7 linked regions of the Homo sapiens genome follow. The protein of the gene in region 5 interacts with the protein of the main gene of each other region in a pairwise test. Each region holds a gene or a part of one and is shown on either strand. Other genes may lie near its edges. The genes, in order: XRCC4, ATPAF2, CAMTA2, MORN3, MAGEA6, SNX4 and NCK2.

Region 1 (4,927 bases), on a different chromosome or scaffold from region 5:
GTATTCCTAGAACACACGCACTGTGATACCACCTCCATCAATCTGATAACCAAGCAACTAAAAGGCAGGAAGCTTATACAGCAGGGATACGCTAAACAAGGAGATGATTCATGGCCCCGGGCTGAATGGGATAGGATGGAATAAGATTTCATCACAACTCAGAAAGGCATGCTATTTAAAATGTATGCATTATTTCTGGAATTTTTTTTTTTTTTTTTGAGATGGAGTCTCGCTCTGTTGCCCACGCAGGAGTACAGTGGCACAATCTCGGCTCACTGCAGCCTCCACCTCCCGGGTTCAATTGATTCTCCTGCCTCAGCCTCCTGACTAGCTGGGACTACAGGCACATGCCACCACGCCTGGCTAATTTTTGTATATTAGTAGAGATGGGGTTTCACCATGTTGGCCAGGCTGGTCTCAAACTCCTGACCTCAAGTGATCTGCCCGCCTTGGTCTCCCAAAGTGCTGGAATTACAGGCATGAGCCACCGCACCCGGCTGGAATTTTCTACTTAATATTTTCAGACTGTGGTTGATCATGGGTAACTGAAACTGCAGAAATCAAAACCTCAGATAAGGAGGGACTACTGTATTTAGTGCCTAATATATGCAATTCAACCATTCCTCCATTATAATTCCTCCTCTCCAGGGACTTTTAATTTAGCAAAGACAAAGCCATGCACAGTAATAGCCAACACTTTCTGAGTGCTTACTGTATGCCAAACATTTGCCTAGATGATTTACTTGTAATAACTCATGTAATCCTCATAACACTGAGGACACCTGTGCACTGGCGCCACAGAAAACTACAAATATCCACTATTTTTACATACGATTTTAATATACCCATGAAACCAAAGTTGGAAATATTCTTCCAGATGCAGGTGAGATAATACTTTTTGAACAGGCCAGACGTGGTGCGGTGGCCTACACCTGTAATCCCAGCACTTTGGGAGGCCGAGGCGGGAGGATCACTTGAGCCCAGGAGTTTGAGACCAGCCTAGGCAACATAGTGAGCCCTGTCTCTACAAAAAATAAAATAAAATTAGCCAAGTATGGTGGCATGCAACCATGGTCCCGGTTACTGGGGATACTGAGGGAGGAGGATAGATCGCTTCTGCCCTGGAGGTTGAGGCTGCAGTGAGTCATGATTGTGCCACTGCACTCCACCCTGGGCAACAGAGCAAGATCCTGTCTCAAAAATAAAAATAAATAATAATTTTTGAACAAAGGAATAACACAGACAGATTTTATTTCTAGTAAGGAAAGGATCCAAGATGGTTTTAAATGAGGATTCACTGCAAAGCTGCCAGAAAGATTTTAGAAATTGTGATATAATCTGAAAACCAAAAAGTAGGGGGTTTATGTAAGACAATGGAGCTAAACTACCACCTCCCAAAAAAAACTCACCACGTCAGATTAACTTTGATGTTTTACATAAATGCAATAAACATTATACATATTTGTTCAGCCTCATTTATTGGCATATGTGTTTCTCTATAGATAACTTAAAAACTGGCAATGCCGTTCTTTACTGTTTTGAAGCTCAGGTACATAAGAAGTCATAGCCTAAAATTAATTAAAATATATAGATATAGCAAATCAATTGTGATCTCTAACAAGTTAAGCTTTCTGATGCTTTTCACAGGTAGCCTGAAGCAGAGCTTCATACAGAAGTATTACCTTTATATGTAACAAAGATCAAGACAATCTTCACATGAAACCAAGGGCAGTTATGTCTACAGACACATTTACTGCCCTAAAAGCCAAGCTCGATAAATTGCACAACATAATTTCCATAACTAAACCAGGTTTGTTTAATTTGAATGGCAAGACCTAAAAGGTATAATATAAAGGAATTACAAGACAGAACATTAAAAGACTTTTTTTATCCTTAGGTGGAGAGTACTGTATCTTTTAAATACCTTTCTTATTCCCCTCTCCCCCAACCTTATTAAATTCCTTAAAGGAACAGACCATCTTTGTTCCTATGCTGCAATCTGAAGATCCATGAATAAAGCAGGCACCCAGTAAATACTTGCTAATTTGTGTATTTGACCAACTCTTGACAATTCAATATAACAGACTCAAATATCAAGTTAGTTATAGTTTAAAACAAAACCTTTGTGTGCCCTAGTGAACAATGTAAACACAAATAGCAGAATCCCAAATCTTCTAATCATTGTGTTGCCCTAAATACAAAAGGGTCTCATAGGCCGAATACAGTTCATAAACCAAAATCTCACGTGAGTTACCTTCTCTCTTTCTCTCTATCCACCTTCTAAGTCCATAAAAAATTGAAAACATTCTGAAAAGAACTCTCTCCTGCCTGAGAAAAAATACACCACACATTTAGAACCAAAAGCTTGCCATAAGGGGGCAAAGAGTGAAAAACTCTCATTTCTAATACTTTATTAGAATTCCAAGAACTACGCAAATTCAAACATGTCAAAGCGCCTGTTTCTCCATCGATAAAATGCAGAAAGAAAAACGTGTGTGTGTAGTAGAACCTCACCTAATGGGATAATTAAAATCAGAAAAAGCTAAATACTACTACTGATTAAAAGTTGCCTTGTCATTTGTCTTGCCAGTTGATCTCTTTAAAGTACCTAATCAATCGCTGCAGTCCGCAAACGGCAGTTCCTTCCCATTGGTTACCACAGAAAGTTCTTTCCTGACCTCAAATTGCCTAGTACGTTTCAGCCTCGATGCCTGGTTGGAACCCACAGTTTACCAATATCTGGGGATTGAAAGGACAGGCCAGTGCTGGGGAAATGCTCAAACAGCCTACTCAACACTACCCTCTGGATTCAACCGTCCTCCCAATCCCACAACCAACACAGAGCATTTCAAAAGTGCTTCGCATTCCCAAGAATCCCTCAGATGCAAACGGAGAAACTGAAAAGGGGGTGAACAGGTCGCACCCTGAGGATAATGCCGAGAACCCTAGCATCCCCAAAAGCCCACAAGAGGAAGTCGCGGGAGCTCACAAATTGAGGGGGATTCTCGCATTGTGGAGTTCTAGGGGTAAGTAGCAGGGAACTTTTTTAAAAAGAAAGCAAAAAGATAAAAAGAACAGAACCTCAGATTTTTGTTATTTAAAGAGGCAGCCCCACTTCCGGATCCTACCTCTCCGTGACTCTACTTCCGGTATCTTCCAAAACGCCCGCTTTCACAGATCAAGGTTTTGCAACCAATGAGAGTATCAGCTACTTCCGCCGGCCTGCGGGACGTGATCTAAATCCCGCCTTTTCCGGTGGAGAGGAGCCTATCCTAGTGTCTTAACCGCCCGTCTTGGTAGGCGGTGCCGTGACAAGCCCAACCGGACGGCTGGAGAGGGCGAGAAGGGCAGACGGGACATGCAGCCTCTTCCGCCTGAGCCCCGGAAGGGTGATGTGGCTGCGGCATCGCCGGCCTCGCTATGGTAAGAAGTGGGGCTCCCAGGTCGCGGTTGATCTTCGAGAAGGGGTTGTGGATCTAGACTAGGGCTGGAGTTTGTGCGGCAGCCCGGGGTGTGTGGGCCCGGAGCTGAGAGGCCTTGGAGCCATGTGGTCCCTCCACGGCCAACCAGAGAGAATCAGGACGGACTGTCCGAGGAAGACTGCTGGGTCGGCAGCCCGCCCCTCATGCAAAGTCCGCTTTCCTACTTTGTTTAGGAAAAAAAAATGCGTTGGTGTGTTTTAACACGTTGGCTACGTAGATTATGTGTGGTCATTGACCCTTTGAAGCATTAGCGCTTCTCGAGTTTCCGCTTGTTTTGTTGCAACTCCTTATCTCGCCCTAGGGGCTTTACTCTGGTGTTATTGTTTGATTTTTGGGGGGAGTTTCTTTTGGCACCAAACTCCATACCTTCATTTTCATCTGTTTAGTCAGTAGCCTCTCAAGACCCTTCCACCTTCTTCTCTTAACTTTGAAAATGCTGCTTTACAAGCTATAGGTTTTAATAGTTAAGAGTTCTCTGCAAAGGTGGATTGCCCTTCTAGGAGCTTAATGTACTTATTGGAGTGGTGTCTAGCCTCAGGCCTTCCTCCTCTTTTACCTCCAGGTCCATGTGCCAAATGTTATGTATATTTCTGGACAAAGGATGCATGCCTGCAAATAGACCCAAAAACAACTATGACTCCAAAAAGCTTGAGTCTCCATGGTGAAAAATTATGAGCCTATGTTCACAGAAGTTGCTGCAGAATCCCATATAGCAATAATTCATTTTCTTCTCTGGACGAATTTACCACCTGGTGGGAAGATGGCAGTTGAGACTAGGAAGACTGCCACTCTTAATTCTTATACATCTTTCTAGAAACTGAAGTTGAATTCTTCTACTCGTAGTGCAAGTCAAAGATAACTCTTTTTATTATCTCACTGTCAGACTAGCTAAAAATAAGATGCATATACTGTGCTTAAGATCAACAGTATATAAACTATCTTGTCATGCTTGTTTTTCCAAAAGTAGCAAATGCTTTCATTTATTATCACGTCCTATGTACCAGGCTCTTTTCAAAAAATCAGTTTATAAGCATGGAAATATCAAGTTCACAGCAACTTCTGAATAGATGTTTACAAGTGAAAGAAGTGAAACATGAAGAGACTGACTTGCCTCGGATCACACCTAGTAGATTGTAAAGCCAGTACTCAAACTTATTTTAATGTCCAGGTCCCCGAAATCTTCATGCTGTTATCGATAGAAACACAACATAACTAAGGATGAAATAAGACTTAGTGATTTGTTTCTTATAAATATAAGTACATAAATTAGACATAGGTGGAAAACGGAAACAACTGGCAGGTGGTTTTTTATTCCTGTGAGCTTGGGATGTCAAAAGTACATTGTTTGCAGAGCTACGAAGTGAGGTTTCAAGAAGGCTAACTTAGCAGCTTAAGAAATGGATTAGTGTCTCAGTATCTTTGAGTTCGCATCTAAACTTAGTTTA
Region 2 (3,031 bases), on a different chromosome or scaffold from region 5:
GGCATAAAGTCAGACACGTGCCCCTGCCGTTTCCCCTGCCATGCCTAGGCAGGCTGCCAGCCACAGGCAAAAGGAGGCCGGTGTGGGCTAAGACCTTCTCTGCTCTGGGTGCTGAGGGGCAGGGAAGCAGGAGGAGAGGCTGCAGCTCCCACCACAGTGCTGGGGCCTGGGCCTGCCCACCAAGGCTGAGGTTAGCCACAAGGACCTGAGGACCCTCCAGAAGAGCAGAGTGCAGGCAGGGCATCCCAGCTCCACCATGTCACCCCCGCAGCCCTGGTGTCATCTGTGACAGTACCTCACAGTGCCTTCGAGGAACAGTTCAGGGAGACAGTGCATGGGAAGCGTGGAGAGGCACCCAGCATGCGATCAGTGCCCTGTGAGCAGGGTTGATGCCATTACCTTACTCAGGCTGGCAAGGACACAGGGCTGAGAGAGCCTGTCTGCCTGAGAACCACTCTTCCCCCCTGCCCTCTTACTGGCCTGACACCAGAAAGTAGCGCCTGCCTCCTGGGACACTAGAGGTGGCTATGTCAGGAGGACCCTTAGGACTCCTGGGTGGGAGATGAGCGGAAACATGCACATCAGGTGACCTTGTCAAGCCTGTCCAGGCTTTTAGCCCAGAAACAACTTCTATTTTCTACTTTCTAGAGTAAATCATTTGTTTTAGAACAGTAGGAACAAATAGAAACAACCAGCTTAGACCACAATTGTTTCAAAAGATTGTTTGATTAAAAGCCAGCCAAAAAAAAGCCTTCAGGCTGAGGCTGAAGAACACAAATAGAGTTGTCTGTGGATTACATGATTGTTTCCCCAGTGCAAGGTTCCTGACCACAGGCAGCAGATATCCAAACACGCCATGGGAGATAAGCTGTTTAACCCTCTGGAACCTAGACAAAACAGGAAGAATGGAGAAGTGCAGAGGCATACGTGAAAACAGGGCTCAGCACATTTCCAGGGTGGAGAAATATTTAATAAAATCAGAGTCGAGAGAAAGTCACTTGCACAATTCATCTCCTACATTCACTGCTGGCCAGGCCAGGGGCACCTGGGTTGAAATCAGGCTGACCTCCGGACAGCCGTACTAGCGCACTGTGTCTCGGGGGGAATCTCAGGGTGACGCTGAGGCCGAGTCCCCAAAAGCCAAGGAAGCCAGCCCCACAGGCTGGGGAGCCCTGAAGGCCGGGGGAGCTGTGGCTGCACTGCCTCTATCCTGCTGAGTGTGCTCTGCCCAGGCCTCACTCCTTCAGGAGCTTGTGCTTGACTGTGGTGCTCTCGGAGCAGAGATGGATGAAGAGGGTGCCGGCGGCGGTGCGGGCCCGCAGCTCCTGCAGCTCATAGTCATGGGCCCACTCAATGTTGCCCCACTTCTGGATCTGAGGGAAGGACAAGACAAGTTGCTGGGTGAGTGGCCAGTGCCTGGCTGCCTCCTGACCAAAGCCACGTTCCATTCCAATAGGTTGGCTGAGGGCAACAGGTTTGTATCTTGCCAAAACACATGAGACATGCCTAGGGGGAGGTGGCAGGTAAGAACACCCAGGTACGCCAGACACGGTGGCTCACGCCTGTAATCCCAGCACTCTGGGAGACCGAGGCAGGAAGACTGCTTGAATCCAGGAGTTCAAGACCAGCCTGGGCAAATATGGTGCAACCTCGCCTCTACAAAAAGGTTTAAAAATTAGCTGGGTGTGGTGGGGGTGCACCTGTAGTCCCAGCTATTTGAGAGACTGAGGTAGGAGGACTGCTTTGAGCCCAGGAGGCTGAAGCTGCAGTAAGCCAAGATCACACCGCTGCACTCCCACTTGGGCAACAGAGCAAGACCCTGTCTCAAAAACACCACACACACACACACACACACACACACACACACACACACCCCACCACCCCACCCCCAGGGAGCCGGAGCAGGCACCTGTGCTCTCTGTGGCATGGATGGTCTGGAAGAAGTGCAGTCCAGGCCCAGGCCCAGGGCCAGTGGCTGCCCACCCACCACTGGGCAGGCTGGGTACCAGAACCACCCATGTGACTTCTTTGAGGAGGCCTTATGTGCCATCCCTTCTCCTACACTTCCTCCCAGAAAGCCTGTGAATGGACAGCCTCTCCAAGTTGCCTTGCCATGCTGGGCTACAAGTGCCCCCCAGCGCCATGTGGGTGGAATAACTAAATCAAGTAAGGCCACGCAGTGGCTTCAACTCTGACTCTTGTGGTAGTCACAGAACTACAGATGCCTCTGCTCTGCACACTGGGGACAAGTTGCAGATTCTCTGTCTGGAGCTCTAAAAACAAGAGGGAGGAACGCTCAGACACACGATGTGGCTGTCCAGACAGTGTAAGTCCAACCAAACCTTGCTGGCTCCTCCCTGGCTAGTTGCCCAAGAGGCCTGGCCTGGCCGCCCCAGCTCATCCAGGAACTCAGAATCCACCATGCTACACAAGCTATTTGAACTTCTGGGCTGCCTGGTCCCAAACTGTACAATTGTAATATGTCATCTGAAGAGTATTCCATACTTTCATTGTATACCATCACATACATAATTCAGGTTATTCCTCTGTTTGTAGAGGATCGAAACCAAAGTTCAGAGAATGATGGCCTGGCTTGGGTCCCATAGTCAGAAGCAGAGCCCAGACTGGCTTCCCACCAGCCCTACAAGTCACCCCCTTCCTATGTAATCAGTTCTGACATCCAGAGAATAGTAGCGGGCCTCCTTTGTTATACAAAAATAGTTTTTTCCCTGGCATTTTTCTGAGCAGAAGACTACAAGAACTAGGGAAATACATCACAAAAAGTTTTGTGTTTTTTTGTTTGTTTGTTTTTACCATATTAGGGACCAATTCATAATAGCAATTAACCTTCTGAGGTTGGTGGAATAACAATAAAAAGACTGCAAAGATGGCTATAATTTTCAGAGTTAAAAAATGCAAACCATACTGTGGCAAAACCTTAATTCTGAGCCCACTAAATCAAAACTTGTATACAAACAGCAGCTACCCCTATGCTCCTCTGCCAGCCAGATAAAATGTCAGGGTATGAAGG
Region 3 (4,207 bases), on a different chromosome or scaffold from region 5:
AGCACAGAAGCAGAAAGGGGCCCCTCCCGCCCTGCCACCTGCAAAGACACCAGCCCTACCTCATGGGCTGGAGAGGGTAGGATCAGCGAGAAGGGCTCTCTTTCCCTGGCTCCTTCTCTGGCTACCTGTGTCAGCCACAGACAATTATTCCATAGTTATTTCCCCTACTGCCCTGCTGTGGGCCAAGAGGCCCCTGGCTTCAGTGGCCTTGGCACTAACTGGGAAGGGAGTCCATTTGTTTGAGAACTTAATACGTACTATGGGCCAGAGATCCCTTGGATTCTAGACCCTGTAGTTGAAGATATTTGTTATTCAGCAAGAAGGTTTGGAAACTGAGGGTCAAGAGACTAGTTATGAACAATTTGATGTTGGAAAATCCTCTTGATCCCCGGATCAGAGTCTGGAAGTTATGACCCTGTTACTGAGATGGAGGAAAGGGGAGCTAGCCGCTCATGAACAGTGTCCAGTGGCCATAAGCATGGAACCAGCAGGCCCTGATCCTAAGACCAGGTGCTGAGACTTTTTCTCCCAGTCCCCAGATTCTCTGGTCTCATCCCCTTTCCTTACACACATGCTGGATGCTGCTGTAGAGACTGGGGGAGAACACACTCGTAGACAGCAAAGCTGCCAACCTGTCACTTTGGTGGTCCTTGAGGTCCCCTAGTAAGGCTGATTTTTGAGTGTAGGGTAAGGGCAAAGCTGGTGGCAAAAGGGCAGAGATGAACCTTGGCAATGAAGTCTAGACCAGTGCTGTCCAATAGAACATTTCTGCAGTGACAAGAATGTTCTATATCGTCACTATCCAATAGGGTAACACGAGCCATGTGTGGCTACTGAACACTTGAAACATGGTCAGTGAGACTGGGGAAGTGAATTTTAAGTATTCTTTAACTTTAATTAATAGGCACATGTGGCTAATGGCTACCATACTGGACAGCACAGTTCTAAAAGCCAATGTCCTTCAGTCCCAAGACTGGTTAGAGGAAACCCACATTTCTTCTTTCTCATTCCCCCTGGATTGGAGTTGGAGACTCTGGCTCTAAGCCAGAAAGCCTGGACAGACATTAGAAATCCCTTTGGTCAATGCCTAACCTTACAGGAGAGGAGGCCAAGGACCTCAGGAAGGATCAGACTCATCTGAGGTCACTGGTTAGCTAAGGAGTAGACTTCTTGGACCAGAACCTCGATCTTCTGACACCTAAGTCTGGGCTCTTCTGCCTGCTGGGAGAGCTTGGGGCTCAACCTCAGGACTGGATGAAGTCCTTGTGCTCTCAAAACAACCCATTTGTTCCCAGTGCTTTCTGGAAGCCTGGAGGTCCTGATCTGTCCTAACTGCCCACATGTCAGTCCCTCCCCCTACGGTTCCCAATCCTCATACCGGGACAGTAGCAGCGTAAGACACCAGGCTGGACAAGTGAGGCTGGCACTGCGATGTGATCAAAGACACAGGAGTAATGCTCGGCGGCTTCGGTCCAAGGACCTGTGATGAGCACCTTGACCCCACCCTGCAGACAGAAGTCAGAGACCATGTGACTGGAGTTGGGCGTTCATCCCCTCACTCATTCATTTATTCAGACCCTTACAGGGTATCTACTATATGGCAGGTCCTGTGCTAGAGTCTGGGGGTCCAGGGATAGACAGGACCCAGTGGGGTGAGGTCAGTGAGTCTATCTCTCCCCAACATTCCTGCCAAGTGGTTGCCTGGTCTCTACCTGAATCTGCCAGTAGCTGGGAATTCAGGGCCTCCCCCAAAGCTACCACAGAGCTGTCACCAGAAGGAAGTTCTGTTCTTGGGCTAATTCACCCCCACTGTACTTCCTCCTTTTCCTCTCAAAGGCAGCATAAAACAGAACTTCTCCACTGCTGAAGACAGTCTTTCAGCTACTCAAAGTCTGCAATCACATCCCTGATGTTTCTTTTCTTCTCCAGGCTGCACAGCCCCAATTCCCTACCCCTGAAAACAGTCAGGAAGGGAATGAGGTCCTAGGAGACTCCAGAAACCATGCTAACACATGGAAGGGAGAGGAACAGAAAAAAGGTTAAGTTGCTGAGGACTCTGGAAACAGGAAAGCAGCTTCACTCTACATAAAAAAAGAGATTGGCGGCTGGGCACGGTGGCTCACACCTGTAATCCCAGCACTTTGGGAGGCCGAGGCAGGCAATCACCTGAGGTCAGAAGTTTGAGACCATCCTGGCCAACATGGTGAAACCCCATCTCTACTAAAAATACAAAAATTAGCCGGGCGTGGTGGCGGTCACCTGTAATCCCAGCTACTCAGGAGGCTGAGGCAGGAGAATCGTTTGAACCCGGGAGGCGGAGGTTGCAGTGAGCCAAGATTGTGCCATTGCACTCCAGCCTGGGCAACAAGAGCGAAACTGTCTCAAAAAAAAAAAAAAAAAAAAAGAGAGAGATTAGGTAGAGGACTAAGAAGCCTAAGAAGCCATGAAAACTGAGGGAAACTAGGTCACAGACCACGGGGTAAGAGTTAATACAATTTGTTTTGGGGAGTCAGAAGACAAATAGGAGGGAGGAGGGAGGAGGTAAGCCTGAGTCTCACCTCTGGGTAGGACCACTCTGGGGAGAAGTCTGTGATGGTGCTAAGAGCAGGAGACAGCTGGGGGGTCGGAGCAGGGATGCTTGGAGCTTCGTCACTGATGAGTTCTCCCATAAGGTCTGGGAATGATGAAAGACTGAAGGGCTCCAGTTCACTGGCCCCAACAGGTCCTCCAAACAAGGCCTCTCCTCTTCCTACCCTGCTTGACGGCTCCAAGGGGGCAGGTGAGGGTGGGGGTGAGGGAGGGGGTGAAGGTATGGGTGGGGCAGCCCCGTGACCCTTGAGCTCCTCCCCACTGTCATCATCTTGGATGAAGAAGCAGTTTCCTCTTCTCCCACCTGCTACTGACTGTGGTGGGGGACCCCGAGCAGCTGCCTGGGGCTCCAGGGCAGCAGCAGGCTCTAGGGCAGAACAGGGGGTATGAGCGGCCTCTGCCTCGGGGAAGTCTGGGCTTACTCCCTGCCCCCCTCCATATGTCTGGCCCCTCTGGGGGCTGTTGAGAAAACGATCAGGGTCAAAGGCAGGACTGGGAGGAGCTGGTGGGGCAGAAGGCTCAGTGCCTACAACCACTGCCAAACTCATGGAAGGCCTAGGATCAGCCTGTGGAGCCAAGTGCCTGGTGGGCGTCAAGCCTCCAGCCCGCTGCTCCAGTCCTGTCAGGAGGAGGATAGCAGTGCCTCCTCTTGAAGAACCCCCTCGAGAAGTGGGAGGGCTAGGTCTGATTTCTAGGGGCTCTGCAAAACCTGATGAGGAGGAAGAAGAGGAAGAAGATGGGGAGGTGTGTGCCTTGGGGAGCTCTGGGGGAAGTGGGGCTATCAGTGGAGGAGGCTCTGGGGGGTGAGCGTGGGGGATAGAGGTCAGGGTTAAAGCTCGGGGCTCCACTTTGGGAGAGATGATGCGGTGTTTCGTGCTGCTGCATTTGTGGGTAAGGCTCCCAGAACCTGGAGTGGAGAGGAGTAGGAGGGAGAGGAGATAAGACACATCATTCCGCACCTTCTCTACCTTGAGGCCCTTAAAAGTATTTCCTGGGACGTCCCTATAAACCAGAGGTGTAATACTGATTGTAGCCACTGGGAGGCATCAGAAATGTCTGTTCTCTACCCCTACCCTTTATTCCCCCTCCCCCTCTCCATTTCCCCTCAAAACAAGCAGGACCAGAGGAACGCTCCAGAGAACTGAGGGCTTGGGAGAGTAGCTAAAAGCAAAAGTTAAAGGCATAGGAAAAGGACAAAAGAACAGAACCAAGGGGGTGCCAACTAGGAGGAAGGCTAAGGCTGGGTGTCACTGGTGGTGCTGAGGGGACAGGAATTGCTGAAGGTAGAAGACAGGAAGGGCAGAGGCTGCCATGACAGCTGAGTGCAAGGCTGATTCCGAGCCAGTGTGCACCCAGATGGGAACGTCTGTTCATCTGGCCCATCTTTCTGGGACATGCAAAAGACTTGCAAATCAGCATGCAAATCCCATCAAGATGGATATCCCCCTGGCTTGCGTAAGAGCAGTGTGGCTAGGTGGGAAGACAGCCAAAAGGTCAGGGAGTAACTTACCAAGCCCCCCACTGCAGAGACAGGCGTGGGTTCGGGGAGCAGGCTTGGTTGGGTGGGTGTCCAAAATCTGCTGCACCAGGTGTTCTACAGAGAACTCTTCTGTTCCAT
Region 4 (4,207 bases), on a different chromosome or scaffold from region 5:
AGGAAGGTCATCAAGCCCAGCCTAGAGAATTCAGGACAGAAGGCTAAGCACAATGGCTCACGCCTGTAATCCCAGCAATTTGGGAGGCAGACAGGGGTGTATCACTTGAGGTCAGGAGTTCGAGACTAGCCTGGCCAACATGGTGAAACCCCCGTCTCTACTAAATAAAAAACACAAAAAAAATTAGCCGGGCATAGTGGTGTGTACCTGTAGTCCCAGCTAGGGAGACGGAGACATTAGAATCGCTTGAAGCCAGGAGGCAGAGGTGGCAGTGAACCGAGATCACGCCACTGCACTTCAGCCTGGGCAACAGAGTGAGACTCCATCTCAAAATAAATAAATAAATAAATAAAACTATATAATAATAATAATTAGCTAGATGTTGTGGTGCACATCTGTAGTCCCAACTTTTCAAAAGGCTGAGGCAGGAGGATTGCTTGATCTCAGGAGGCTGAGGTTATAGTGAGCTATGGTGGTGCCACTACACTCCAGCCTGGACAACAGAGCAAGACTTGTCTCAAAAAGAGGGAATTCAGGGCAGGCTTCCTGTAGGAGGTGACACTAAAAGATGCTAGGAGTTAGCCAGGAAGAAAAAAAAGGGAGAAAGATGGGAGGCAAAAAAATAGCAAAGGGAACGAGATGTAAAACAGCAGAGTGTGTCTGCCCTGGGACAGGAGTGAGGAGAAGAGTTGCGGGGGCCCTCAGGGATATGTGGGAAATCAGGATTTTGAGGAGTAGACTTGGCTTCTCAACCCAACCTCCTCGGGTGTGATCTGCAAACAGACCTTGTTTCCCTGTGGTTGGACACTAAGTGTGGTGTTTTTTGTTTTTTGAGACGGAGTCTTTCTCTGTTGCCCAGGCTGGAGTACAGTGGCGCGATCTTGGCTCACTGCAAGCTCCGCCTCCTGGTTCACGGCCTTCTCCTGCCTCAGCCTCCCGAGTAGCTGGGACTACGGGCACCCACCACCACACCCAGCTAATTTTTTTGTATTTTTAGTAGAGACGGGTTTTCACCATGTTAGCCAGGATGGTCTCGATCTCCTGACCTTGTGATCCGCCTGCCTTGGCCTCCCAAAGTGCTGGGATTACAAGCGTGAGCCACAGCGCCCAGCCTAAGTGTGGTGTTTTTTGTTTGTTTGTTTGTTTGTTTTTTGAGACAGTCTTGCTCTGTTGCCCAGGTGGGAGTGCAATGGCACGATCTGGGCTCACTGCAACCTCCGACTCCTGGGTTCAAGCAATTCTTCTGCCTCAGCCTCCCAAGTAGCTAGTATTACAGGTGCCCACCACCACACTCAGCTAATTTTTTATATTTTTAATAGAGACAGGGTTTTGCCACGTTGGTCAGGCTGGTCTAAAACTCCTGACCTCAGGTGATCCATCTGCCTCGGCCTCCCAAAGTGCTGGGATTATAGGCGTAAGCCACCACGCCAGGCTAAGTATGGTGTTTATGTTCATTTTTCTGGGTCAAAATAAGAGTGGGAGGGGGGCGAGCATGATCAGATGGGCGATTTTTTTTTTTTTTGAGATAGCGTCTCACCCTGTCACCTAGGCTACCGTGCATTCTCAGCTCACTGCAACCTCCATCTCCCAGGTTCAAGTGATTCTCCTGCCTCAGCCTCCCCAGTAACTGGGATCACAGGCGCCGCCATCACGCCCAGCTAATTTTTTGTATTTTTGGTAGAGATGGGGTTTCACCATGTTGGCCAGGCTGGTCTCAAACTCCTGACCTCAAGTGATCCACCCACCTCAGCCTCCTAAAGTGAGCCGGTGAGCCACAGCGCCCAGCCTAGATGGGCGATTTAAAGAGTCCTCCGGCGCTGTAGGGGCTGCATGGCGCATGGTGTGGTGGGGATGAGAGAGGAGAGGGTGGGTCAGTAAGGAGGGAGTTTAATGACTGGCTGCATGGAGGCGCCAGCAGAGGGACAGAGAGAAACAGAGCATGGGGAGATCCTTCAAGACATTATCGGTGGGCACTATGGCTCACACCTGTAATCCCAGCACTTTGGGAGGCTGAGGCGGGCGGATCACTTGAAGTCAGGAGTTCAAGACCAGCCTGGCCAACATGGTGAAACCCTGTCTCTCCTAAAAATACAAAAATTAGCAGGGCGTGGTGATGCGTGTTTGTAATCCCAGCTTCTCGGGAGGCTGAGGCAGGAGAATCACTTGAACCCGGGGGACGGAGGTTACAGTGAGCCGAGATCACATCACTGCACTCCAGCCTGGGTGACAGAGTGGATCTCTGTCTAAAAACAAACAAACAAACAAAAAAGACAGGATACTCCGCTAAGACACGACCCTCCGCTTGGACGTAGGGCTGAGGAAGAAGGAAGAAGCTGGGGTGTGTGGCTCTAGGGGTGCCTGGGAAGACGGTGGGCTTTCCTGGTGGTGTTGGGGGGCGCCCTGAGTAGTAGCATCTTCGTACTTTCAGGGTTATGGGATCCAGTTTTTCGGACCCAAGGAGTATTATGAGGGTGACTGGTGTGGCAGCCAGCGCAGCGGGTGGGGCCGCATGTATTACAGCAACGGCGACATCTACGAGGGACAGTGGGAGAACGACAAGCCCAACGGGGAGGGCATGCTGCGCCTGAGTGAGTGCCCCACCCCCGCCGGCCCCGCCCACCCGACCACGCCCCCGGCAGCGAGCTGGCCACGCCCATTTGGTCCCACAGAGACAGGCCACACCCCACACTCTTGTCCCACACTGACCCTTGTGTCAATGTGGGACAAGAGAGGAAGAGCACCCTATCTCTCCCCTCAGTCACAAAAGGTCACATATATATGATGCTATTTATATGAAATTTTTAGGACACGCACCTCCACAGAGACAGAAAGTAGACTAATGGTTGCCTAGGACTATGGGGGTGGTGACATTAGTGGGTGTGGGGAATGGCTGCTTAATGGGCACAGGGTTTCCTTTTCGGGTGATTAAAACGTTTTGAAACTAGATAGAGGTAATGGTTGCACAGCATTGTGAATGTACTAAATGCCACTGAACTATACACTTCAAAATGGCCAACTTATGTTATATGAACTTATATCTCAATTTTTAAAAAAAAAGCCAGGCGCAGTGGCTCATGCCTGTAATCCCAGCACTTTGGGAGGCAGAGGCGGGCGGATCATGAGGTCAGGAGTTTGAGATCAGCCTGGCCAACGTGGAGAAACCCTGTCTCTACTAAAAATACAAAAAGTAGCTGCATGTGGTGGTATACACCTGTAATCCCAGCTACTCAGGAGGCTGAGGCAGGAGAATCACTTGAACTCGGGAGGCGGAGGTTGTCACTCAGGCTGGAGTGCTGTGGGGCAATCTCAGCTCACTGCAGCCTCAACTTCTTGAGCTCAAGCCATCCTCCCACCTCAGCCTCCAGAGTAGCTGGGACTATAGGTGCACACCACTATGCCCAGCTAATTAAAAAAATTTTTTTTTTTGCAGAGATGTGGTCTCACTATGTTGCTCAGGCTGGTCTTGATCTCCTGGGCTTATGAGCCTCCCATCTTGGCCTCCCAATGTGTTAGGATTTGCACTGAGCTCTGGAAGAGCGACCCCTGGGGGTCTAGCTTAGTTTGGTGTACCCTGCACCACACCTCCCTGTCCTTTCCCCCAGAGAACGGGAACCGCTACGAGGGCTGCTGGGAGAGAGGCATGAAGAACGGGGCGGGGCGTTTCTTCCATCTGGACCACGGCCAGCTGTTTGAAGGCTTCTGGGTGGACAATATGGCCAAATGCGGGACGATGATCGACTTTGGCCGTGACGAGGCCCCTGAGCCCACTCAGTTCCCCATTCCTGAGGTGGGCAGCCCTCACCAGGGCCCTGTGGCCACACCCAGACAGAGACAGAAGCCAGCATCCCCAGCCATGCCCAGGCCAGATCTGCCAGGCCCAGCCAAGCCCAGACAGGGAACAGACAAGGTTTTGTTTTCAGTCAGGGCATCCCTAGCAAGGGAGGTGGCTCCTGATGAGGCTGGCAGCACCCCACACGGCAGGCAGCGCCAGTCAAGGCTGGCAGCCTGGGTCCTCCATGCTCTCCAAACCAACTTCTTGGTATTTCCCTCCAGGTCAAAATCCTAGACCCTGATGGTGTGCTGGCGGAGGCCTTGGCCATGTTCAGGAAGACAGAGGAAGGAGATTGATGCCAGGTGAGGGGTGGGCACACCTGCCAAGTTCTGATGTGGCTGAGGCTGCTCCAGGGCCCAGAACAATGCACAGATC
Region 5 (4,742 bases):
ACCCCCTCCCACTGGCCCTGGCTGCAACTCGTGCTCAGACTCACTCTTCCCCCTCTCTCAAAGCCCACTCATGCAGGAGTGGGTAGGAAATGCGAGGTCCTCCACTGATCTTTACCATATGGTGCAGGACTTTCACATAGCTGGTTTCAATGAGGGCCCTTGGACCCCACAGGAACTCATAGCATGCAGGATCACTGCCGGGGACCTGCCGGTACTCCAGGTAGTTTTCCTGCACGAAATATTGGGTGAGCAGCTTCTTGGGATCCCCGAAGATACTGTCTTCCCTCCCCTCAAACACCTCTAACACACTCAGCTCCTCCCAGATTTTCTCCTCAGGGGCACAGTCGCCCTCTTTTGCGATTATGGCCAGGATGATTATCAGGAAGCCTGTCTTGGGCATGATCTGATTGTCACCCAGCAGGCCATCGTAGGAGAGGCCCAGGCAGGTGGCAAAGATGTACACGTGGCCGATGGGGTCCACTTCCATCAGCTCGATGCCAAAGACCAGCTGCAAGGAATCGGAAGCTTTGCTGAAGATCACAGGAAAGAAGTACTGCCAATTTCCGACGACACTCCCCAGCATTTCTGCCTTTGTGACCGGCTCCCTGGCTCGATACTTGAGGAGCAGAAAATGAACCAACTTGGCCACCTTCCTACTGAGTGCTGCTTGGAACTCAGACTCCAGGTCAGGGAAGGTGCTTGGCCCCTCCTCTTCTTGGTTGCTGGAGTCCTCATAGGATTGGCTCCAGAGAGGGTAGTTCATGGTAGTGGGGAGGCTGGAGGCTCCCTGAGGACTCTGGGGAGGATCTGGTGACTCGGCAGCAGGCACCTCCCCCAGGGTGACTTCAACTAGAGTAGAAGAGGAGGAGGCAGCCTCCTGCTCCTCAGTAGCAGGAGCCTGCGCACCCACCAGGCCCAGGGCCTCTCCTCGGGCCTCAAGGCCTTCTTCAGGCTTGCAGTGCTGACTCCTCTGCTCAAGAGGCATGATGACTCTGGTCAGGGCAACAGGCGGGAGTGTGGGCAGGAGCTGGGCAATGGAGACCCACTGGCCTGGGGAGAGAGGGAGCATGTGAGAGACCTCAGCTGAGTACTGAATGGAACCTTGGAGGCTCTAACAAAGGCTTACTTACAGATCTTCTCCTTCAGTGCTCCTCCGGGGGCCTCTGTTCCTCCACGTCAGCCTGTCCCCTCAGAACCTGAAGGAGGAAGTGAGAGGGCACCTCAGGGTACATCCGGCCAGCACATGCTGAGGCTGCAGGACTGAAAGTATTGAGGGTGAGGCCAGGCGCTCTGGAGTCCATGTGTTCTGGGGCAGGTGGGGCCCTTGGTTTGAATCCAAGGCAAACCTTCACCGTTGGCACTATCTGAGCCCCCTCTACTCTGTGACCTGAGGACACTGCCTCAGACCAAGTCCTCACTGCCTTGTTCCTGGAGCTCCTGATTCCTGGGAGAGGAATCCACGGGCCCCCAATGTGCAGACAGCAAACGCAGCCACGGATTCCCAGAACTGTCAGGAGGGTTGGCCAGACTCTGTGAGGTCCCCACTCTACTGGGGTGGAGGATCCCCTCTGTGCTCACTCAGGGCCCTCACCTTTCTCCTTATAGGACCTAATCCCTCCCTTCTGCTGGCCTGAGAATCTCTCATGTCAAGAACTCACATACCTGATATGGTACAGAAAAACATGAGGGGACCCACATCTGGCCATACATTCCCAGGTCCTCCCGGAAAGGACAACGAGAGATGTCCAAATTTATTGAAGTCCATGTACCCTGGGTGAGGAGACTGCTTGGTCCTCACCTCCACTCCTAGTAGGGTCTGAGAGCCTCCCTCTACTGCCCTGAGTGCAGTCCCCTCAGACCAAGGCTTCCCCTTCCCTGACATCAGTGATCCTAGGATAATGGAGGGACCTCAGCTGACAGCCCTGCCCAGGCTCTCTGAGGTAACAGCAGGAGCAGGGCAGATTTTTATGGGGCCCCCAGTCCGCATTCTGTCCCAGGGGTACCCTCAATCCTCCCTCAGTCTCTTCACCTGGATGCTTGGCAGATCCTAGGACCACTGCATCTGTCCACCACATAGGGGCCCCTTGGGGGTACACCTTGGGCCCTGCAGATCCTGGGATTCCTCCCTCTGCTGACCTGAAGTCCCACTCTTCAGACCACAGCCCTCAACTCTCTGGTCACCCTGAAGGCGCAATGAGCACAGAGCACATTTGGCCACTGTGCCCAGCATCCCCCAGCCCAAGGTTGCCACTGATCTGGACTCCAAGGTCCCCTCAGTCCTCCCTCTTCTTCCTCCCCATGACTCCTCGCAGGGCTGGGCCCCAACCCCCTGCTGAAGTGGGTCTGCATCCCTAGGATTCCCGTAGCCGAATGAAAAGGTGCCTCGGTTTGAGACAGGGGTACAGTGGGCCCCCTGTCCTGGCATGCTGGGTCCCCTCAGGACTCCACTGTCTTCCAGGAGGGCCTGGGCCCTTTCGCTGCCTCCCAACGGCCATACTCGCGATACCGAACCCCTTCCCTCCCTTAGCCGTAGATGTGAACCTCAGGACTCACGTGCCTGGCCGCCATTCCCGGAGCTTCCGTGACTTGATACCAGGGGCAAAGCCCGGATTCTGCCAGGATAGGGGTGGGGGTGGGGATGGGAATGGGGAATGGGGGATGGGGGTGGGGTTGGTGTTGGGGGACGGGAATGGTGGTGAGGGTGGTGGTTAGGCTGCCCTCAGTTCCCTCTCGGGGTCCTGACCTTGATTCCTGCCACAGCGTGGGCCCTGACCTCTTCTAACCAGCCCTGCCCTGGCCACATTAAGCTCTGTCCCCAGAGTTCCCCGTGGCTAAAGCGGCGGGGGTCGGCGGGGTGAGGTAGTGGCGACCCAGCCTGGAAGTCTTCCCCTGCGGGGTGGCCCAGGCCCGGCAGCAGAGGCAGCACTGGATTATTTGAGGCCCTCTGTCTGAGGTGAGGCCCGCCTCAGTCCTCCCTCAGCGTCTTACCTTGCCTCCTCACCGAGCCTGGGCCGGCTTCCCTCCGCCGACGTCAGGCCGTCGCTCGTTGCTCAGGGCGAGAATCTCGCGGTCTTCTGACCTCCAATGCGCAAGTCAGTGGCGTCACATCCTGGCAACGGTACTACCCTGGGTTCCGGGCAGGGGTGGAACTGGATTCTGCCTGGATGGGGATCGGATGGGGGTGGAGGTAAGCATGAAGATGGTGATGGGGCAAGGGGTAAGGATTGGGACGGGGGTCCTGAGGCTGTAGATCCTGGTGGGGTCGGGGGAGTTGGGGGTGGGTGGGCGGGGCCTTCGGTCATCCCTCAGGGTCCTGAAGTTGATGCCTGGCTGAGCCTGGACCGCCATCCTCTGCAGATTGCTTCTGCTCCCCTCAGACCAAGTCTCTGACTCTGAGTCCCCCTGAAGTGGCATTGGGGGAAGGGGTGTGGTCTGGGTGACATCACTGCCTGCGTTTACCAGGGCTGACAAGAGGGGCTGAGCTGGATTCTGTGGTCCCTCTATGGTGTGTGGGGTGGGGGGGCGGTGTGGACCCTCAGTCCTCACTCAGGAGGGTCGTTTTCGTCACCTCTGGCTGTTGGATGAAGTGATGGGCAGGAGATGCTCTGTTTCTGTCACCTGTGAGCATTTGCACAGCTGCACCCCTTGTAGAGAATGCCTGCGGGTCCCAGGCCAGGTGCTCCCTGCAGGGCGGGGCGGCAGCTCCCGCGGTTGTAGTGACCTCCTATTTCAGTCTTTGTGTTCTGTTGAAAGAATTTTTTTTTTTAAAAAATGTAATTCCTCTCCCACTATGGTGGTTTCAGGTTGTTATTAGCAGAACTCTGGAGTCATACTGCCTTAACCAACCAAATTTTCCTGGTGTCCTGCTATTACCTAGGGCTCTTGGCATCGTGTTTTCAGAGGCTGCCTCAGATTGTGCAAAGAAGTGAAGTGGAAAATTTCAAACTTTTATTCTACCCATTCTGTCATCTACCGTGTAGGCCGGCTACAAACCTCCCCAACATCCCTGCTGCTAACCCCCTCCAACCAACACTGCAAGTGTCAAACACAAGTACCAGCTCAACACAGCCTTGAGTCTCACCCTGGGCTTTCCCTGTTTTGTTGCTGATACTGGTTTTTTATTTACTGTTTCCATTCTGTAATTTTCCAGGTTTGATTTGGGAAGCAGAGCACAGCAGCCCAAATTTGTTGTAATGGCGGCGGCTACAGGTAAGGCACTAAATTGTAAATAATTTAAGCTGAGTTTACATTTTTACAGTGTTGTGCTCCCCATGAATGAATATATTATACTCCTCTATGTATTTCAAGGTTTTTTTTACCTGAATATGTCAGTATACTTCGACAGTTGTCTCTATAAAGACCTTATACATTTTTATTAGACTTCTTTTCAGGCAATTCATGAATTTTGTTGCTATTGCAAATGGCATATTGTCTATTAATTGTTGTAGTTAGTTATTGCTTTCGTGAGGTGAAGATTTTGATTTTGCTGTAGTAATCTGTTGCACACCTCGTTCTGAAGGCCGATGCACTTGAATATTCCACATACCTTTTCCTTTGAATTTTCAAGATCGATAATGGTATTATCACTAAACATTACATATTCTTCCAGTATTCATACCACTTACTCATTTTGGTACTTATAGCTCTTTGTGTCTCAATCCTGATTTCAATCGTAGAGATAATAGCCTACATCTACTTCTCGTTCCTGACGTGAATGATAATTATTCGAACGTTTTGCATTT
Region 6 (4,207 bases), on a different chromosome or scaffold from region 5:
ATGCGGCATACACATACACATACAATGGAACATTATTCAGCCTTTAAAAGGAATCAAATCTGATATATGCTACAACATGGATAAACCTGCAGGACATTATGCTAAGTGAAATAAGACAGATACAAAAAGACAAATACTGTATGATTCCACTTATATGAGACACCAGTGTTTACACTGTATTAGGTATTAATAATCTAGAGATAATTTAAAGCAGGGGGTCCCCAACCCCAGAGCCACGGAGTGATACCAGTCCATGGCCTGTTTGGAACCAGGCTGCATAGCAGGAGGCAAGCGACCACCTGAGCTCTGCCTCCTGTCAGATCAGCAGCAGAGGCATTAGATTCTCTTAGGAGCACGAACCCTATTGTGAACTGCGCATGTGAGGGATCCAGGTTGTGTGTTCCTTGTGAAAATCTAATGCCTGAGATGATCTGAAATGAAACAGTTTCATCCCGAAATCATCCTCAGCACCCCCTGCCCTGGTCCATGGAAAAACTGTCTTCCACAAAACAGGTCCCTAGTGCCAAAAAGGTTGGCGACTGCTGATTTAAAGTATACAAAAGGATATGCACAGGTTACATGCAAATACTACACCATTTTATAGAAGGGACTTAAGCATCTGAGGATTTTGGTATCCCAGGGATCCTTAAACCAATCTCACTGAAGATACTGAGGGATGACTGCACTACTGAACTATATACTTAAAAATGGACAAGATGGTACATTTTATGTTATATATATTTCACTACACACACAAAGGAAATAGAAAACATTTGCCATATTTCCCCTAAGTCAGACAAAACCACCATAAGCTTCACAACCAGGGATCTCTTATATGAGTTTTTATTTATTTTTACAGAGTCATAGCCAAGAATCCTAATAGAATTTCTAACACTGAAATAATATGGAGTAGTCAAAAAGAAGACACTTCTAACTGAATTTCTTTTTTTTTTTGAAATGGGGTCTTGCTCTGTTGCCCAGGCTAGAATGTAATGGCACAATCATGGCTCACTGCAGCCTCAACCTCCTGGGCTCAAGTGATCCTCCCACCTCTGCCTCCCAAGTGGCTGGGACCACAGGTGCATGCCACCACACCCAGCTAATTTTTAAATTTTTGGTAAAGACAGGGTCTAGCTATATTAATCCACACTGGTCTCAAATTCCTGGGCTCAAGCAATTCTGGGTTTACGCCTCTGCTGCTAAAGGTGTCGGGATTGCCATTGTAAGCTACCATACCCGGCTTGAATTTCATAATCAAATGGAAAACTTCCACGTGAAATATTAGACGTTATTTCTTACTCTGTATGAATGATATTTTAAAAATTACTTTATGTTATAAAAAAAGTCGATAAATTCACTAGGCAACTATGGAAATAAACCAAACTAAAGAAGCATATTTAAAATCTGCATAACTCAACGCTCAAACTTGGGCATCTATTAATAAAACAGGATACCTAAATCCAAGCATGGGAAGGCAACCCCAAGCTTCACTGCTTTAACATTTCCTCACTCTCTGGAGTTTACTGAAGAAAACACTTTTCCCTTGACATGTAGGATAGAGAACCAAGCTCCCTGAAAATGGCCTGGGAACTTCTCCCACTGAGTTTTAAAAATAAACCAAGGGCCTAGTTTATACATGTGTCCTGGTCACAAGTCTTTCCCCACATATATCTGTGACTTTTCACAGATGTAGCCAGTGGGTAATCTCTGTGAAAAGCACTTTTAAAACTATAGTGCTTGGCCAGGCGCGCTGGCTCATGCCTATAATCCCAGCACTTTGGGTGGCCGAGGCGGGCGGATCACGAGGTCAGGAGATTCAGACCATCTTGGCTAACATGGTGAAACCCCGTCTGTACTAAAAGTGCAAAAAAAAAATTGGTCGGGCGTGGTGGCAGGCGCCTGTAGTCCCAGCTATTCAGGAGGCTGAGGCAGGAGAATGGTGTGAACCCAGGAGGTGGAGCTTGCAGTGAGCCACACTCTAACCTGGGCAACAGAGCGAAACTCGGTCTAAAAACAAACAAACAAACAAACAAAAACTACAGTGCTTATTAACTAAGTAGAGACATTGCTGCTGGTTTACTACTTTCAGAATGTGTGTTGCTCACCATGATGGCTGATTTATTGCAATGAAATAACTGGAGTAGAAAGCTGATTATAAAAATGATCCAAGACTAATGCAATCAGGTACAGAATTTTCCTCACAAGTACTCACTGTAAGCATTAAAGAATAAAGTACATCAAAAGCTCCCTGTTAGGCGAGATGCACTGGTTCTAAGTGGGTAAGGCTTTTCAAAGTCAACTAAAATTTCTGCAAAGTACCTTGCAAAGTTAAACCTGATAAAGGTCACTGCATGTTTTTTCACTTGGACTTAGAAACCAGATGATAGACTAGGCATGGTGGCTTACCCCTGTAATCCTAGCACTTTGGGAGGCGGAGGTGGGAGGATCACTTGAGTCCAGGAGTTTGAGACCACCCTGGTCAACATGATGAGACTATAAACAAAATTAGCCAGGCATGGGGGCACATGCCTGTGGTCCCAACTACTCAAGAGGCTGAGGCAGGAAGACCACTTGATCCCAGGAGTTTGAGGCTTCCATGAGCCCTGATCATACCACTGCACTCCAGCCTGGGAAACAGAACCAGACCTTGTCTCAAAAAATAAAAATTAATAAAAACAATTTTTTTGAGATGGAGTCTTGCTCTGTCACCCAGGCTGGAGTGCAGTGGCGTGACCTCGGGTCACTGCAACCTCCGATTCCCTGGTTCAAGCAATTCTTCTGCCTCACCTTCCCGAGTAGCTGGGACTACAGGCGTGAGGCACCACACCTGGCTAATTTTTGTATTTCTAGTAGAGATCGGGTTTCACCATGTTGGCCAGGCTAATCTCGAACTCCTGACCTCAGGTGATCCACTGGCCTTGGCCTCCCAAAGTGCTGGGATTACAGGTGTGAGCCACCGTGCCCAGCCCAATAATTTTTTTTTTTTTTAAAACGAAACCGGATGATACTGATTACACCAGAGAAATGTTGGCAAAATTTCTTATAATTCTATACAGTACATGGTTTTAATGGCTTACATCATTTTGTATCAAGATAATAATAAAAGAATTATAAAGTTACTCACAAATTATTCCCCTGTAAAAGGTTCAGCCGTCCTGAGTATTGTAACTGGAACTGATTCTACAGGAGTGAGTTACTCACTCAGAGTGAGTGCTTGTGAGGAACATTCCGTGTTGCTACAGTATCATCAGAGGCCAAAAGGAAAATACTCACCCCAGTTACCAGTTCCTCACACTGCTGCTTCTTGGATGCTAAGTCCTGAGCAGCCATCTCCAAGTCATACTGCATAAGTTCATGTTTCCTGCACACAGCCCTACAGATGAAAAAATGTGCTGCCATTTAACTTTTCCTTTAACATGTCAAACATTTTTTTCAAGGGTAGAGGAGAACCATTCACAATGTCTCGCTAGGGCAGAATGTGTGTGCCCAGAATTTTCAAGTTTAAAATGTAGTAGCCCAACATTAAAAATGGAATCTAATGGAATCTAGCAGAACCTAACCATAAAAACTTCATATATTCTTTTTTTTTTTTTTTTTTTTTTGAGACAGAGTTTTGCTCTTGTTGCCCAGGCTGGAGTGCAATGGCGCGATCTCGGCTCACTGCAACCTCCGCCTCCCGGGTTCAAATGATTCTCCTGCCTCAGCTTCCCTAGTAGATGGGATTACAGGCATGCGCCACCACACCCAGCTAATTTTGTATTTTTAGTAGAGATGGGAATTCTCCATATTGGCCAGGCTGGTCTCAAACTGCTGACCTGAGGTGACCCACCCACTTCGGCCTCCCAAAGTACTGGGATTACAGGCATGAGCCACCTGTACCCGGCCAAAAACGTCATATATTCTTAACACAAAAAAAGTTGTTTTCCATATACTTGGAACATTTCTTTCAATAAACATGCCATTATCACATACATAAAACATTTTTTAATGTATGTGAGAACTACATACATAATGTATACATATGTATACATAATTACATACATAATGAACTACATACATAATTAGTTCTTACATAATGTAAGAACTAATGCTGTAATCTCACATAGCAACTGAGTATTCTTAGAAAAGATAATACCTCAAAGTTTTCTTCTTTGTGATTTAGAAATGTCTATTAGGTATTTTTTTTTTTTTTTTTTTGGAGACAAGG
Region 7 (4,207 bases), on a different chromosome or scaffold from region 5:
TGCTCTTGACAATCCATCAGTTCAAATGGCATTTGCAGGGAGACAGTCCATATTAAAACACACATACGCACCATTTTCTGCAGTTAGTCTCTTCTCCTCCCATGACAGAGAGCTGGGCCCATGCTCAGTTCCATGCAAAGCTGTAGTGGGGTAGCCCTGCCATTACTGCACAGGAGAACCCTGAACCAGTCCCAGTGGAGAGAGTCTTTAAAAACAAACTGATTATAAACTTAGTTTTGTTATCACAATTAGCAAACCATCAGTGGGTGGCCACAGATGACTTGTAGCTCAGCATGTGTGTATATGGGGAAGGGGATATTTAGATGCTGGGAGAAACAGAGAGGCAGCCCAGTCGTGCAAGCCCATGACTGCCATGCTGGGGACTTGAGTCACTGACCCAAGTACGATGGAGAGCCACCGTGTGCAGGTCATGGCCAGACCTGACTGTCAGGGTGCAGTCACCCTGGGATGGATTGGCAGGAATGGTTAAAAAGTGGTTTTGATGTCCAGGGGAAACAGAAAAAGGACAGCAGGGCTGAGATGTTAGATCTTTTGGAGGTAGAATCAATAGGGGTTGATAACTAGTTGGGAGCTGAGGGAGAATTCAAGGATAACCGAGTGAGTCGGTGATGGGGAATATAACTGAGAAGGCGGGCAGGTTGCAGGAGAAGCTGCAAATGGTTTGGGATGGTGGAAATGACCACTAAGAACTTGGATAATTCATATGAATGTGAATGAATGAGCAAACAAAGCATCAATGAACATACAGATCTGGAGCTAGAGGGAGGTCAGTCATGCAGGCATTGCCCCTGCCTTATGTCTGAACAAGGCAAAATGGCCTAGGTCAGAAACATTCCAGCCACGCTCAGGGTGCACCTCACCACCGTCATGCACATTCTGCTAAGGGATGTTTGCTCATGTGGCAAAGACTGCACGATCACAGAGATGGCAGGCTCAGAGGAGACGGCCTCTCCACCCTGGCTGCCATTGGCCCCACCTCTTGCTTTGCTCTCTTCATCCAGGGTTCAGAAAAAACTTTCCTTTGCATATCACTGATATTTTATCATGGTCTCAATTAAAGACAAACCAACCCCCAAATAAGTGTCTACCTACCTAAGTTGAAGAGAAGTTTCCATAAATGAAATCAAGTCAAGATTTTTCTCTCTCTTCAATCACTCTACTTAAAACCTTTCCAGCCTTTGGAAGGCCAGCACCAAGGCTTGTTCCCTGTTATGGGGTGCTACAACCAATATATAAAGAGCTGACGTTCCCTCCTTACTTGTGACTACTCTAACCATCCCTGGTAGGTGTCCCCAAATAAACAGAGATCCCAGATCTGGATGATGGGAGCACCAGGTCTTCCTAAAAGCATCAGCCCTGTTGTGGAACCTAGACAGACACACTGGGAGTGGCTGAATTGTCCACCCTAAATTCATATGGTAAAGCCCTAACCCCTAAGTGACTATATTTGGAGACAGGACGCTTCAGGAGGCAATTAAGGTTAAAAAAGGTCATAAATAAGGTTAAAAAAGGTCACCATAAGGGTGGGGCCCTCATCCAACAGGACAGATGTTCTTATAAGAGGAAGAAACACCAGACCTCTCTCTCAGTGCACTCACAGAAGGAAGGCTACGTGAGTGAGGACACAAGAAGACGAGCCAGGAAGAGACACTCACCAGAAACCAGCCCTGCCGGCCCCGGGGTCATGGACTTCCAGCCTCCAGAACTGTGAGAAAATAAATGTCTGCAGCTTTAGCCACCCATTCTGTTGTTGTTGTTTTGTGTGTGTGTGTGTGTGTGTGTGTGTGTGTTTGTTTGCTTTTGAGACAGGGTCTCACGCTGTCACCCAGGAGTGCAGTGGTGTGATCTTGGCTCACTGCAACCTCCGCCTCCTGGGTTCAAGCAATTCGCGTGACTCAGCCTCCCGAGTAGCTGGGATTACAGCCGTGAGCCACTGCGCCCGGCCTCTGTGTGTTATTCTCTTAAGGCAGCTGGAGCTGACTAATACACGCACTAAACAGGAATAAGCTTTCTGAACTTGAGGAGGCTTTCCAGGGTAACCCTGGCCCATAACCAGGATGTGGGGACAAGAGAGACTGACATTGCTCCTGCCGGCCTCCCCTCACACCGCTCAACCTCAGTCAACTCACATCCAGAATCTGCTCCACCAATATCTACACACAGCTGCGACACGGCAAAGGCAGATACCCAAGGACACTGTGTTCTGTAAACTGCCTCACAAAAAAACAACTCTACCCAGCAACACGTTGGTGTTCCTCATGTATGGCCTGCAGAAGGACTTAACCTAAATTCAAGCTCTGTCATCCCCAGTCTCCTACCTAGAAATGAGGGCCAGAACCAAGTGCACCATGTTATTCGACTATTAAATATGATGGTGTATGTGAAGAGGACTTTGCAAACAATGAATGAGCGTGCATGCATTAGTACATGTCATTCTCTCATCATGGCATTTTCGGTCTTCACTAACAATTTGGCAACGTAAGCACCCCAGCTTCCAAAATTGTCTCAAAAGAAGCAACTGCAATACTTAAAATTCTGAGTGCACTTGAAGCTTCTTCTCTTAAAAACATTACCAATACAACAGTAGAAAGAAGGGGTGACACAAATAACTAACTTACCAGGCCAGGATCACAAACGGTCTGCCCAGCGTTTTGAATTCAGGTTGATAGGAACAGACTAACCTACAAAAGTAAACCATTCAGCCAGCCCACCAGGTAATACAGTTGAGTATGGGGTTGGCTTTGTTTTTTTGTTGTTGTTGTTGCTGTTGTTGTTTTTAAATGTAGCTTCAGGACTACAAATGACTCACATGACAGAAAATTTGCCAAATAGAGAGGCCAACAGACCAAATTCTCCCATTGTCTGGACATCCTGAGGTCAAAGCCTTCCACAGTAGACAGAAGTTCTGAGATTTACAAGAATGCTGGAGGTCTCTTACCACTTGAATCTCAGTGGGAGGCTAGAGCCCCAATATTAACAGGCTGGGCACTCATTATTCACATATTCAATAAGTATTTGTTGCACACTCATTGTGTATAAGTGGCAAGACCAGTCTGCCCCCAAGCGGTTCAGAATCTAGTAAAGAAAAGATGAAGGCAAAAAAACCATAGGGCAGGGTATGGTGGCTCTGGCCTGTAATCCCAGTACTTTTGGAGGTCAAGGCAGGAGGCTCACTTGAGCCCAGGAGTTTGAGACCAGCCTTGGCAAAGCAGCAAGACCCTGTCTCTACAAAATAAAAATAAAAATAAAAATAAAAAAATTCACTGAGCATGGTGGTGCACACCCGTAGTCCCAGCTACTCGGAGGCTGAGGTGGGAAGATTGCCTGAGGTGGGAAGATTGCCTGAACCCAGAAGCTCGAGGATGCAGTGAGCTGTGATCATGCTACTGTACTCCAGCCTGGGTGACAGGGTGAAACCCTGCCTTAAAAAAAGAAAAAAAACAACTGCAGGAAAGAATGTCACAGATGACAAATCAGGGACACAAAGAAAGTGCTGTGGAAGTTTAAAGATGATGCCATCCCCTCTAGTTTGGAGTTGATAAGATGTGGGGAAGAAAAGAAGTAAGAGACGACCCTTGGGATGAGTAAGAACTCAGGACACGGAGGAGACTGAGCCAAGGAGTTGAGAGGGAACACAGAGGCTGGTCAGGGACAGTGACACCGTATGACATCACTGTGACACTGCTACCTCAATCAAAATAACTTTCATTTCCACAGTTTCAAGGACTAAGATTCTTGAGGTAGGAATGTATGTGCCAGTACACATGTGGATGTGTGTCACTGGGCAGAGGTAATACTTGCTAACGTTCATTTACCTTTAGAAATAAACATACTTTGGGAAATGTTCAAAGGAAAATGCAGGAAAAGAAAAGAGTCTAATTTTTTAATTGTGCTACTAAATGGCCTAAAGAAATGCAAAACTGTTTTTGCTTTAGCTGCACACTTTTGATAGCCCGTTAAAAGGCCGTCACGACCTTCTTCTGAGTTGCCTTAACTCAGGCATGGAACAAGATACACGAAATCACATTTTAGCTTAGGCCCTTTGAAAACGTGCCGTGAAGTATTTCCATCACTCATTTTAGGAAACAGAAACCATTTGGAAGTGCCACTCGCAAACCCTCTGGATGGGAAAACTAATTTCCTAAGCATCTGAAGTGAGCTGTAGGGAGTTTCCAGTTCATTTGTG

The links.
Region 1: the proteins of MAGEA6 (region 5) and XRCC4 interact in binary tests that used the Homo sapiens proteins (3 or more experiments, as listed by UniProt).
Region 2: the proteins of MAGEA6 (region 5) and ATPAF2 interact in binary tests that used the Homo sapiens proteins (3 or more experiments, as listed by UniProt).
Region 3: the proteins of MAGEA6 (region 5) and CAMTA2 interact in binary tests that used the Homo sapiens proteins (3 or more experiments, as listed by UniProt).
Region 4: the proteins of MAGEA6 (region 5) and MORN3 interact in binary tests that used the Homo sapiens proteins (3 or more experiments, as listed by UniProt).
Region 6: the proteins of MAGEA6 (region 5) and SNX4 interact in binary tests that used the Homo sapiens proteins (3 or more experiments, as listed by UniProt).
Region 7: the proteins of MAGEA6 (region 5) and NCK2 interact in binary tests that used the Homo sapiens proteins (3 or more experiments, as listed by UniProt).

The regions. Positions count from the first base shown.
Region 1 is NC_000005.10:83,075,817-83,080,743, reverse strand, and holds the start of XRCC4 (DNA repair protein XRCC4), read right to left. Parts: upstream 3,198-4,927; 5' UTR 3,129-3,197; exon of another isoform or gene 3,082-3,128; intron 1-3,081. Other genes in the region: TMEM167A (protein kish-A precursor), read left to right, coding at 3,421-3,423.
Region 2 is NC_000017.11:18,017,314-18,020,344, forward strand, and holds the end of ATPAF2 (ATP synthase mitochondrial F1 complex assembly factor 2), read right to left. Parts: intron 1,374-3,031; coding exon 1,236-1,373; 3' UTR 708-1,235; downstream 1-707. UniProt on the Homo sapiens protein: Plays a role in the assembly of the F1 component of the mitochondrial ATP synthase (ATPase).
Region 3 is NC_000017.11:4,977,126-4,981,332, forward strand, and holds part of CAMTA2 (calmodulin-binding transcription activator 2), read right to left. Parts: coding exon 4,100-4,207; intron 3,497-4,099; coding exon 2,559-3,496; intron 1,506-2,558; coding exon 1,379-1,505; intron 68-1,378; coding exon 1-67. UniProt on the Homo sapiens protein: Transcription activator. May act as tumor suppressor.
Region 4 is NC_000012.12:121,652,655-121,656,861, reverse strand, and holds part of MORN3 (MORN repeat-containing protein 3), read left to right. Parts: intron 1-2,428; coding exon 2,429-2,588; intron 2,589-3,602; coding exon 3,603-3,787; intron 3,788-4,053; coding exon 4,054-4,128; 3' UTR 4,129-4,134; intron 4,135-4,207. UniProt on the Homo sapiens protein: Assembles a suppression complex (suppresome) by tethering SIRT1 and MDM2 to regulate composite modifications of p53/TP53.
Region 5 is NC_000023.11:152,766,666-152,771,407, forward strand, and holds the start of MAGEA6 (melanoma-associated antigen 6), read right to left. Parts: upstream 3,025-4,742; 5' UTR 2,989-3,024; intron 1,261-2,988; exon of another isoform or gene 1,197-1,260; 5' UTR 1,131-1,196; intron 1,051-1,130; 5' UTR 986-1,050; coding exon 41-985; 3' UTR 1-40. UniProt on the Homo sapiens protein: Activator of ubiquitin ligase activity of RING-type zinc finger-containing E3 ubiquitin-protein ligases that acts as a repressor of autophagy. May enhance ubiquitin ligase activity of TRIM28 and stimulate p53/TP53 ubiquitination by TRIM28.
Region 6 is NC_000003.12:125,453,993-125,458,199, forward strand, and holds part of SNX4 (sorting nexin-4), read right to left. Parts: intron 3,374-4,207; coding exon 3,274-3,373; intron 1-3,273. UniProt on the Homo sapiens protein: Involved in the regulation of endocytosis and in several stages of intracellular trafficking. Plays a role in recycling endocytosed transferrin receptor and prevent its degradation.
Region 7 is NC_000002.12:105,747,642-105,751,848, reverse strand, and holds part of NCK2 (cytoplasmic protein NCK2), read right to left. Parts: intron 1-4,207. UniProt on the Homo sapiens protein: Adapter protein which associates with tyrosine-phosphorylated growth factor receptors or their cellular substrates. Maintains low levels of EIF2S1 phosphorylation by promoting its dephosphorylation by PP1.